2 separate regions of the Homo sapiens genome follow, and region 2 is linked to region 1. The links come from fine-mapping of genetic effects on gene expression. Tissue or cell type: skeletal muscle. Region 1 holds a variant in brackets; the other region holds the start of a gene. All regions are shown on one strand. Distances are from middle to middle.

Region 1 (5,739 bases):
CATATCTAAGTTGATGATTGTGAAGGGGAGAAGTGCTTATTTTTTCCTTTCAGTTCTATGATATTCATCCGATTTTCTTTTTTGTTTGTTTTCATGTTACGTTGTCCCTTTCAGGAGCAATTATGTTTGCCTCTCCACATTTTAGAAGAGAAAGGTTTGAGCCAGGTTGCAGTGACGGTCCAGGCTCTCCTGGAACTTGCCCCACCCAAGCAACAGCAGCACCAGTTATCTGCTGTTTGAGGATCCCCAGGACGGTGGGCACTGGCCTGGCCAAAACAAGGAACAGGACACCGTGATTGCTGCTGCCAGCTGTCTGCTTAAACAAAGCTCTTGTGTGTTCTCAGAAGGGACCGTTCCCATGATTCCTAACAGGAATATTTTGCTTCATTTCTCCATTTTAGGGGAGGTTATTTCCATTTCCATTGAATTTTTTTACGAAGACACCATTGGTTTTCTCAGATGAAACTTCTCTTACTGAAAACCCAGCACCTAACTTGGCTGTGTTTTCCTGGAGAGCAGGCGTGTTTCACGTGCCAGAAAGCACATCTTCTGTGTTAGGCACAAGCATGCTGTGCCATTGTTTTTACCTGGTCTCAAGACAACTGGTCTGCTGGTTTCTAAACTTGGTTGTTCATTAGACTCTCCTGGAGTATTTGTTAAAATACAGATTCACATTCAGTAGAGCTGGGGTAAGGCCTAGGAATCTGCATTTTCAACAACCATTGCACATGTTTTTGTTTTTGTTGGAGAAGGAGTTCTGCTCAGTCGCCCAGGCTAGAGTGCAGTGGCATAATCTCAGCTCACTGCAACCTCCGCCTCCCGGGCTCAAGCGATTCTCCTGCCTCAGCCTCCCGAGTAGCTGGGACAACAGGTGCCCGCCACCATGCCTGGCTAATTTTCTTGTATTTTTAGTAGAGATGGGATTTTGTCATGTTGGCCAGGCTGGTCTCAAACTCCTGACTTCAAGTGATCCACCTGCCTCGGCCTCCCAAAATGCTGGGATTACAGGCGTGAGCCACTGTGCCCGGCCTCCCAGAGTGCTGGGATGACAGGCGTGAGCCCCCGCGCCCGGCCTCCGAGAGTGCTGGGATTACAGGCGTGAGCCACTGTGCCCGGCCTCTGAGGGTGCTGGGATTACAGGCGTGAGCCACTGCGCCCGGCGCCCGGCCCATTGCACGTGTTTTTCATGTAGTGGAACCACTGTTCAAAGCTAGATATTTGTATGTTTGCGGGGGAGGGTAATGGCCCCCTGCATTTTTCACCCACATTTAAAATCAAAAGCTATATTATGAGGAGTTGGACTGTTCTGTCAAAGGCAAAACAAAAATAATATAGAAGGCCTAGGTTTTGCATAGTCTTCTTTTTTTTAAGAGTTGGGGTCTTGCCGTATTGCCCAGGCTGGTCTGAAACTCCTGGGCTCAACTGATCCTCCCGCCTCAGCCTCCCAAAGTGCTGGGATTACTGGAGTGAGCCATCGGGCCTGGCCCAGATTTTGCATAGTAAAACAGTGAAACAGATAGAGTTGTATTTAAGGTCAGTATTCTAGGCCTCCCTTCAACTGCAGTCATACCATCATAGAAGATAGTTCTATGTCATCCTGTTATCTGGACATTATAATAAACAACAAGCCCTCTATACACAGGTTCCAAACCCCGTTATCTAGACATTATCAACAACAAGCCCTCTCTCTATACAGAGTTTCCAAATTCTGAAGCTGATAGCGCACTTGGTCTCACTGAGCCTCCCTCCCCGCCCTCCTGCTGCTCCTCAGACATCTGGGCCTGCAGACACATTGCAGTTACAGCACATACACTTCTAGCTCGGAAAAGCCTAGTTTCTTGTATTTCTTTCAGGTAACTGCCAGTTTCTGTGGCTGAATTTAAGCACTTACAGCATCTTCCTAGCTGGGTGTGGTGGCTCACACCTGTAATCTCAGCACTTTGGGAGGCTGAGGCGGGCAGATCACCTGAAGTTGGGAGTTTGAGACCAGCCTGACCAACATGGAGAAACCCCGTCTCTACTAAAAATACAAAATTAGCTGGGCGTGGTGGTGCATGCCTGTAATCCCAGCTACTCGGGAGGCTGAGGCAGGAGAATTGCTTGAACCCAGGAGGCGGAGGTTGTGGTGAGCCAAGATCGTGCCATTGCACCCCAGCCTGGGCAACAAAAGCGAAATTCCATCTCAAAAAAAGAAAACGCGCCCCATCTCGCTCCACCACAAGCGCCTTTATATACTCAATGATGGGTGGAGGAAAAGGGCCCAAGGGCTCACACCGCACAGGAGCCTTTACTCAAGTTTCAGCTAGTTTTCCTTCCCCTGCATTTTGAACTCCTTTTAGTTGTTGGTGATATCCTTTGGTGTTCACTGCCTTTGTAAAACAAGTAAATAAAGTAAGCGGAAGATATCTCTTTTGTTTCTGTAGTTGTTAACTGTTCTGGATTTTCTTTACAATGCATCCATTTGGGCATAATGTTATCCCTCTTTTTATCAGGTAAATGTAGCATCTAAAAGTAGCTTTGGATCAAATCATGTTGAATACCTGGTCAAAGTAATGTTTTCTTCCTTGTTCTTGCAGAGAAACAAATTCATCAGAACATTACCACTTGACCAGGTTTAAAATTGTATAACAGGCTGGGCATGGTGGCTCATGCCTATAATCCCAGCACTTTGGGAGGCCGAGGCAAGAGGATCACTTGAGCCCAGGAGTTTGAGAGCAGCCTGGGCAACATAGCAAGACCCTGTCTCCCAAAAATTAAAAAAAAAAAAAAAAAACCAGGTGTGGTGGCACCTGCCTGTACTCCCAGCTACTCAGGAGGCTGGGGTGGGAGGATCACTTGAGCCTGGGAGGTTGAGGCTACAGTGAGCCATGGCTGCACCACTGCACTCCAGCCTGGGCAACAGAGTGAGACCCCATCTCTAAAAATAAATTGTACAACATCTAACTTCAATGCCCAATCTTATAGAACAAAAGTAAAATGTCTTTATGTAAGACCCCATTATATTTACAGTTCCCAACAGACCCACCAACTCTTATATACCCTTATATAACTTGTTTAGAATTTAGCCATGTGCATTTTTAAACTGTGTTTGTCAACATTAAGCCTCAGTACAGTCTCCAAATTATATGCCACCAGAAATGAAATTCAGCAAAGGACAGGATTGTTTTTAACATACGCAAGCCAGCCTGGCCAACATGGTGAAACCTTGTCTCTACTAAAAATACAAAAATTAGCTGGGCGTGGTGGTGGGCACCTGTAATCCCAGCTACTTGGGTGGCTGAGGCACAAGAATCGCTTCAACCTGGAAGCCGAAGGTTGCAGTGGGCTGAGATTGTGCCACTGCACTCCAGCCTGGGCAACAGAGCGAGACTCTGTCTCAAAAAAAAAAAAAAAAAAAAACCCACCAAACCAAAAATATACTATGCAAGGAATAATTCTAGAAGACATTACATAATGCAATACTTGCAACATTTGCAACTAATTTTCCCATAGGGATAAATGGAAATTTCAACTTATTTCAAATTTTGCACATATTATGAAACCTTATTAATGTATTTTTATCAAACTAAATCAGATTTGTATTTGAATTGTTAGGAAAAACCATGTGCAGTTTTGGCTGATAATTGAAGGAAAAATATCAAAT[G/A]CTTTGAATTTTTTTTCTCTTTTTTCAAACCCTCTGCAGAGGTAGGAAGGTATGAATTTCTTTTTTATGTCAAGATGCAAAAACAAATCATGATGCTTTTGTTGGGAGAATTTTTGTATTCAGTATTTTGTATGTACCTTTTTTTTTTTAAATTGGAAAGCACAATTCGGTTTAACATTTAGCTTTGCTTGACTCCAGTGTAAGATGAAGATGACCTTGTCACAGCTCCCCTGACCTGAAGCAGAGCCCTTCCCATCACTGACAGTGTTGGGGGTTGAGAGCCCCCCAGCAGAGCCCTTCCCATCACTGACAGTGTGTCGGCAGCTGAGAGCTCCCCCAGCAGAGCCCTTCCCATCACTGAACAGTGTTGGCGGCTGAGAGCCCCCCAGCAGAGCCCTTCCCATCACTGACAGTGTTGGGGGCTGAGAGCCCCCCAGCAGAGCCCTTCCCATCACTGAACAGTGTTGGCGGCTGAGAGCCCCCCAGCAGAGCCCTTCCCATCACTGACAGTGTTGGGGGCTGAGAGCCCCCCTAGCAGAGCCCTTCCCATCACTGACAGTGTCTGGGGCTGAGAGCCCCCCCTAGCAGAGCCCTTCCCATCACTGACAGTGTTGGGGGCTGAGAGCCCCCCAGCAGAGCCCTTCCCATCACTGACAGTGTCTGGGGCTGAGAGCCCCCCAGCAGAGCCCTTCCCATCACTGACAGTGTCTGGGGCTGAGAGCCCCCCCTAGCAGAGCCCTTCCCATCACTGACAGTGTCGGGTTGAGAGCCACCCCCAGCAGAGCCCTTGCCACGTACAGAGATTTTCTGTCAGCAGTTTCCCAGTATTTCAGACTCATAATCTGTGTTTAGCACTCCAGTGTTCTCTTGTAATAGCCAGGTCTGGAAACGACCCATGGAAAGAGGGGCCTTTGTATTCTGCTAGAACACAGAGCATAGTAGTAGATCACTTTTCTGAAGAGCTTTTTAAAATACAGCTAATCAAGGAGTTTGCGATTTCTCTTACTTTCTACAGCTCAGCAGTGACTAATGATGTGTGACTATGCGAATGAGTTTGATGAATTCGTAAAAACTAAGCGCTTAAATGGTTATAGAAATGAAAACATGGATATTTAGAAGCCTTTCTATATACACAGTGCAGTTGAGATGGTTTACAGCAAATTTCGTTTTATTTCTGAAAATGTTGTAAACATGTAATTAGTGAAAGATTTTGTAAAACATTGTCCTGTATTTTTGTCTGTAAATATATTGCATAAGTTCTAAGTATAAATATGTCAGTATCATGTATGTTATTTTAAATTGCCTGTACGCCACTTTACACATTGACATTCAAATAAAAGCCAACACTTCAGTGGCGTGTAATAAAAGCTGATTGGAGCGTGTTCATACCTGAGGTGTGGTTCCCTTGGCAAAGGTGAATCAAGGAAAGAGCATCTCATTTCCAGAGGGAATGTCAGTGGAAATGGGGGCTTCGGGACAAACTTTTGAGATCAAATTCATTTTTTAAGGAAGTACAGATATCAAGACTGAGCTTTATTTGGAGTTAGATAGAAGGCTTAATTCATGAAATGTATGTGACACATTAGGACAACTTTGCTCTTGGAAACCTTTAGCATCCCAAGGCATTGTTTTGACTCATCAAGGCAAGCATGATCTGGTGGGTGCATTTTTTTTCTAGGAGAAGAGGGAGAGTGACAGCTTTCCTATTTGCCAGGCACAAGTTAGATATTTTCACACACCTGATTTCTTTTCATCTTAACACTCCATAAAGTGGGGATTGGTGGCTCTAGTGTTTCACTTGTCAAAAATATCTCCAAACTAGCCTTCCAGAGAACCTGTGTCCCCATCTTTATAGTTTGTAAAGTTGTATATCCTAACATCCTATTTCTAGCTTGTATTTATAATTTGTATCCCTGTTTCCTAGAAAAGTTGCTGAAGCAGCTTACAACTGGATATGTATTCCATGCCATTTTCACCTGAATAAAAACACCAAAGTGACGATAAATCTAAAAGGCAGGCAGGAACCAACATTTATTAAAACTTTGCTGTGTATATATTATGCTGGACAGCTAATAACATCATATTGTAATTCCTAC
Region 2 (5,739 bases), 95 kb before region 1:
ACACCCAGCCCAAAAATTGTAATTCTTTTTCCTTTCCTCATAACCTCTCGTGTGTGTACATAATCTATTTTGGTTTCTACTGCTTTCCACTCATTTTTATTATTTTTTAAAATTATTTTTCATTTTTAGAGATGGGATGTCATTCTCTCCTAGGCTAGAGTGCAGTGGCACAATCATAGCTTGCTGCAGCCTCAACTCCTGGCATCAAGCAAACCTACCTCACCATCCCAAGTAGCTGGGACTACAGTCAGGCACCACCACACCTAGCTAATTATTTTAAAAAATTTTAGAGACCAGAGGGTGGGAGGTGGGGTGCCCTCACTATGTTGCTCAGGCTGGTCTCGAACTCCTGGCCTCAAGCAATCCTCCCACCTTACCCTCCCAAGTAGCTGGGATTACAGGCACAAGCAAGGGTTGACTAATTTTTTAACTCCTAAAAATATACTCAGTCCTATGATAGCATAGAGTTTAATATATTAAGGACCTTAAAATCTTGTTGAATATTCAAGCATCAATCTATAAGCTTGGTCAGTTCAGGGCTAGCATAGTATGTTGCTATTACAATGGGATGTATTCATACATATAGATAGGAATGAGGCCTATTACAGAGAACTTGACAGAATTTAGTGTAGATGTGGAAGGTAATAAGCAATCAGATGACAATGGTGCATTTGAAAAGGTACATCTGGCAACTAATTCTACAGCATTGTAGCATTAGTGTGGAGTATATGAATAGATAATCAGTCATTGTAGTTGAAATCTCCCTAAAAAGTAAAAAAACTGCCCTTAAATAGCTTAATATCTTTCGAAGAATAACAGTTTTAGGAAGCCCAGGATAACAAAAAGCTATATATGCATTGGATAAATGTTATTTGCTGGGGATGACAAATACGTCACCTGCCATTGTGACCCACGCTCATAACATGTATGAGCTCATAACATATGTATGGTTATGTATCATGGAACTTGTTGCTGAAGTAACTAGAATGTATTGAGAGTTTATAGAACAGCTCTCTGGGCAGCTGTTACTAATCAACTTTGGCACTGGGATTAAACATTTTTATACCTTCTAGCATTTAGCAATTCATGCCAATTGAGGTGTCATTGAAGAGTTGGGGCTTGAATGAGAGGATCTCTCCATCCTTATTTTTCTTTTGCTCTCTGACACGAACTTTCTGATCTGTGGCCTTCGTATCCTCCACATGTTACCACTTTAAGTCGTATCTGGATGTGTTCATGCTGATCCATCTTCTAGTCTCACCTTCCAGTTTGTCCTACTTTATAATCCTTCAGGTTTAATTCAAAACCGAATTTATCCATGATATAGCTTTCTTTTCTCTGGACTCATAAGTAAGCCCCATCACTCTTAGCCCTTTTTTGTGGGCCTGTCTGGGTTCCATAATTAGATTGTGATCCTCTAGGAAAGGATTGTACCTGACAGCCTCTTCTATTTCCCATAGTAAAACTAGTTGATTAATTGTTGGTAAAATTTACATCATATAGCAGAAATGGCTTCTTCAGTAAAACAGACTGAAGAATATGCTAGAGACTGGCTGCAATATAAGTGAGGTCTAATTGGTTTTAAATGAAGTATTTTCCACTCTTTCATTTCTTGAGTGGTTTCAATTTAGAGCATCTCTTCGGTTCTACCTTTAATTCCCACATTTAGATTACAGTGAGATCATTTTCTGTTCCTCAATTTTGGTTCCAGACCAACATTTTAGATTTTAATACTACTATAATCTTGCTTTATCCAACAATAAAATCTTGCCAAAAGTACAAGTACTATTGAAGATATTTGTTGTATTTTCATTAAGAAAAGCTATTTTATAAAAGGGATGGATGATATAAAATAATACGTTTTTAATGAGAATTTTGAGCCCAATTAGCACGTTTGTTTGTTTGTTTTCTCTCCAGCAACCATAGTAAGTCCACCAAACCTTGATTTAGATCATCTGGTAATACAATGAAGTTGGGAAACGGTTTAGGTCGTATCTCAGAGGGTCCGCTCCTCTCACCATCCAAGTTTCTGCAGCAGCAGTGTTAAGAAAGATTCCTTGCCGGGCGCGGTAGGTCACGCCTGTAATCCCAGCACTTTGGGAGGCAGAGGCGGGCGGATCACTTGAGGTCAGGAGATCGAGACCATCCTGGCCAACATGGTGAAACCCCGTCTCTACTAAAAATACAAAAATTAACCGGGTGTGGTGGTGCGTGCCTGTAGTCCCAGCTACTCGGGAGCCTGAGGCAGGAGAATAGCTTGAACCCAGGAAGCAGAGGTTGCAGTGAGCCGAGATCGCGCCACTGCACTCCAGCCTGGGCGACAGAGCGAGACTCTGTCTCAAAAAAAAAAAATTCTTAATTTAATGCTTAGTCGACTCCTCCACTACTGAGGGAGCAAGGCGGAGAAGTTTTGATGCGGAGCGTTGCCTGAAAGATGTTTTTGTAGAGGCATTTTAGAAATGCCCCTGGGAGGTTAGAGTAGGGGGCTGCTCTGGATTTGTGAGGTCCGTTTTAACTTCCCTTGAAAAGCGCATCATGTGGGCGGGGGCAAGCGCCTGGCTGCGCCGGGGGGCACCACGGTGCTGCCCATCACGGGAACCGTCCGGGGTCGGTCCGTGAGCCCCTTTCTCCGCCCACCCAGCGGTCCGGCCGCGCATGCGCTGAGCTGGCGGGCCCGAGTGTTGTCGGCTGGGAAATGGCGGCCGCGGGCTTGGTCGCTGTGGCAGCGGCTGCCGAGTACTCTGGCACGGTAGCGTCGGGAGGTAACCTCCCTGGTGTTCACTGCGGCCCAAGCTCCGGGGCAGGCCCTGGTTTTGGCCCGGGCTCGTGGAGCCGCTCTCTCGATCGAGCCCTGGAGGAGGCGGCGGTCACTGGGGTGCTGAGCCTGAGCGGCCGGAAACTGAGGGAGTTTCCCCGGGGAGCGGCCAACCACGACCTGACGGACACCACCCGGGCGGGTGAGCGGGGCGGGGGGCGTCTCTGCCCGTCGGAGACCCGGCGCCGGGAGCCGCCCCGGCCGGGGGAGGCGGATGCGGGGGAGTTACAGCAGCTCGTCCCGTAGGCGCCGGGTCCGGACCCGGGTAACGGGGAGAAGCCGACGGCGCCAGCCCTCCGGGCCTGCGCCAGACCCAGAGCCTGGGGAGAGGCGGCGGGCGGCGGCATCTCTCGGGGAAGGGGGCCGGAGTGATTGATGGATGATTTTTTAGGCTTTCTGAGGAAAATCAGTTTCTGCCACGGCGGAGGTAGACCCTTGCCCCGCCCCGGTTTCTGCAGGCCCTTTCGGATTTGGGGTGCCGAATGGACCTGCTAAGACGGGAACGTTAGCGCGAGCTCTTCACAGATCAGAGTAGCAGGGGTGTCTGGACGAGCTGCATTGTCAGGAAGGGTCGGTCTCAGCCCTGGAGTTTTTTCGAAAGAAGTGTTGGGGAGCGTGTGTTTAAAGTGGACCCGAAAGAAGTGTTGGGGTGTGTGTGTGTTTAAAGTGAACCCGAGAGAAGTGTTGGGGTGTGTGTGTGTTTAAAGTGAACCCCAAAGAAGTGCTGGGGTGTGTGTGAAGTGAACCCGAACGCTGGAACGTCTTTCTTCGCCTCCATCTAGTTGACTTACAAAATAAATACGCTTGTAAAAATAACTAGAGCCCACTTTCCGACTCCCATTAGTTTCCTCTTCCACTCCTCATGTCCTCCAAAAAAAAGTTGAAGCAAACTACTTAGAAAAGATAGTCTAACATATTTGTACTTGCTATTCCTTTTTAAAGCATTACTTCGTGTTATGTATGTTTTCGAACACAGGAAAGAGAATAAGAAAGTAGGTATTATTTGGCTTTCTTAGTTGTGGCGAACAGTGTCTGGTGCCCGAGTTGTTCATCATCATGTTTGCAGTGCCGTCATCACTGCTCACTGCAGCCTCGACCTCCCGGGCTCAGGTGATCCTCCCACCTCAGCCTCCTGAGTAGCTGGGACTACAGGCAGCCGCCACCACGCCCAGCTAATTTTATATATATATATATATATATATATATAAAATATACATATATATATAATATACATATAAATATTATATATAAAATATATATATATTTTTTCGAGACGGTATCTCGCTCTTGTCTCCCAGGCTGGAGTGGAATGACACAATCTCTGCTCATTGCAACCTCTGCCTCCCAGGCTCAGGTGATCCTCCCACCTCAGCCTCCCGAGTAGCTGGGACTACAGGCGCCCGCCACCACACCCGGCTAATTTTTGGATTTTTATTAGAGACGGGATTTCACCATGTTGGCCAGGCAGGTCTCGAACTCCTGACCTCAGGTGATTCGCCCGCCTCGGCCTCCCAAAGTGCTGGGATTACAGGCGTGAGCCACCGCGTCCGGCCAATATTTTGTATTTTTTTGTAGAGACGGGGTTTTGCTATGTTGCCCAGGCTGGTCTCCAACTCCTGGGCTCAAGCTATCCGCCGACCTCGGCCTTACAAAAGGTTGAGATTACAGGCGTGAGCCACTGCGGCTGGCAGTACTTGGTGTCTTATTTTATTTTAAAATCTTAGATTGAGCACATTTTCTATGCTTTGCAGTCATTAAAAATTTATAAGTATTACATATGATTCACTCATTTTGGAAAAATAAACAGAACTGTTAAACTAAAGAAGCGATTCTTTCCAAAGAAACTTTTGCTGTAGTTTAAAATAGAAGAAATTAAATGCCTGCTTATTTAATCTCTTTTTGGAAACAGTTGAACTGAATATTTTTTAGTGATTTAAAGTTTCTTGCTAAGGTAAATATGAGCAGCCACTTTCCTTTTGTGTGTGTTCTGGTAGACGGCATGTAAAATTATCATTCACACCTCAGATTTCCTGCTTCTGTTTAGGAGATGGCTATATGGTATAGTGATTTCATATTGGTGTGAGTCATTTCATTGTTACTACATCAAGCCTGAAGCTAAAGAACAAGTTGATTACAGGAGTCTGTCTAGCTCATTTTCTCACCTGCTTTTCAGTAGGTCTAGGAGCACCGTGTTGAGTCCTTAAATATTTTATTGACTAAGAAAATCCAAGTGCATTTATGAAGAATAATAAGTAATACCAAAGAGGTTTTTCCTTACTGTGCTCTGAGTTTTTAAGTATGGTGTTGCCTACACTTTAATAGTTTTGTATAGAAACCACATTTTTTGTTGGTTGATTTTTCATCTGGTCAAAACGTGTAAAAAGAAAATAAAAAGATTACAAGGTATTTTATAAGCTATTAGACTAGATTCATTTCTAACATGTAGTAATATCACTTATGAAATATAAAAAAAAATCTTTGGCAGACCTTGCTCGTTACCCAGTCTCTGTTTTAAACAGATAATTTAATGCCAATGACATCATTTATTGAGTGTTCACTATTTGTAATTCACCGTGTTAGATATTTTGAAATATACTGCCTTGTTAAATGCACACAATAATTTGTGGATTAAATACTATCCCCACTTTACATGTGAGGGATCACCTAGAGAAAGTCATATGGCTATCACCACTATATAGTATCACTGGTAGGATTTTGGCCCAGGTTATAGCTATCACCACTATATAGTATCACTGGTAGGATTTTGGCCCAGGTTATAGCTATCACCACTATGTAGTATCAGTGGTAGGATTTTGGCCCAGGTTCATCTAACTCTGTTCTTTCCACTGTACCATGCAACCTCTTCATATAGAAATAGGTGTTGCTGTTCCTGTTTTTACAGATGGTGGAAACCAGCATTTAGA

Direction of the effects. Positions count from the first base shown, and alleles are read on the strand shown. Sizes are in standard deviations (SD) of each study's normalised expression.
For the expression in skeletal muscle of the gene that starts at base 2,671 in region 2, G is the high allele of the variant in region 1 and A is the other (moderate effect, 0.43 SD a copy in FUSION).

Evidence for each region. PIP is the estimated chance that this variant, and not a neighbour inherited with it, causes the effect.
Region 2: it holds the start of LRCH3, and the variant in region 1 is the best candidate, but not a certain one, in a credible set for the expression of LRCH3 in skeletal muscle (FUSION, PIP 0.51).

Annotation. Positions count from the first base shown.
Region 1 is chr3:197,883,427-197,889,165 of GRCh38, forward strand. LRCH3 (leucine rich repeats and calponin homology domain containing 3) reads left to right here. Exons shown (of 21, transcript NM_001365715.1): 21 at 115-5,010. The coding sequence ends at 240. It overlaps DRC9 (dynein regulatory complex subunit 9), which reads right to left. Exons shown (of 12, transcript NM_032263.5): 12 at 5,651-5,739. Among named protein-coding and RNA genes, the nearest start is that of RPL35A, 64 kb to the right of the region's middle. The variant G/A (reference allele first, on the strand shown) is at 3,644.
Region 2 is chr3:197,788,584-197,794,322 of GRCh38, forward strand. It overlaps LRCH3 (leucine rich repeats and calponin homology domain containing 3), which reads left to right and starts at 2,671. Exons shown (of 21, transcript NM_001365715.1): 1 at 2,671-2,957. The coding sequence starts at 2,696. RefSeq lists enhancers at 2,331-3,045, 2,659-2,858, 5,499-5,578 and a silencer at 2,899-3,168.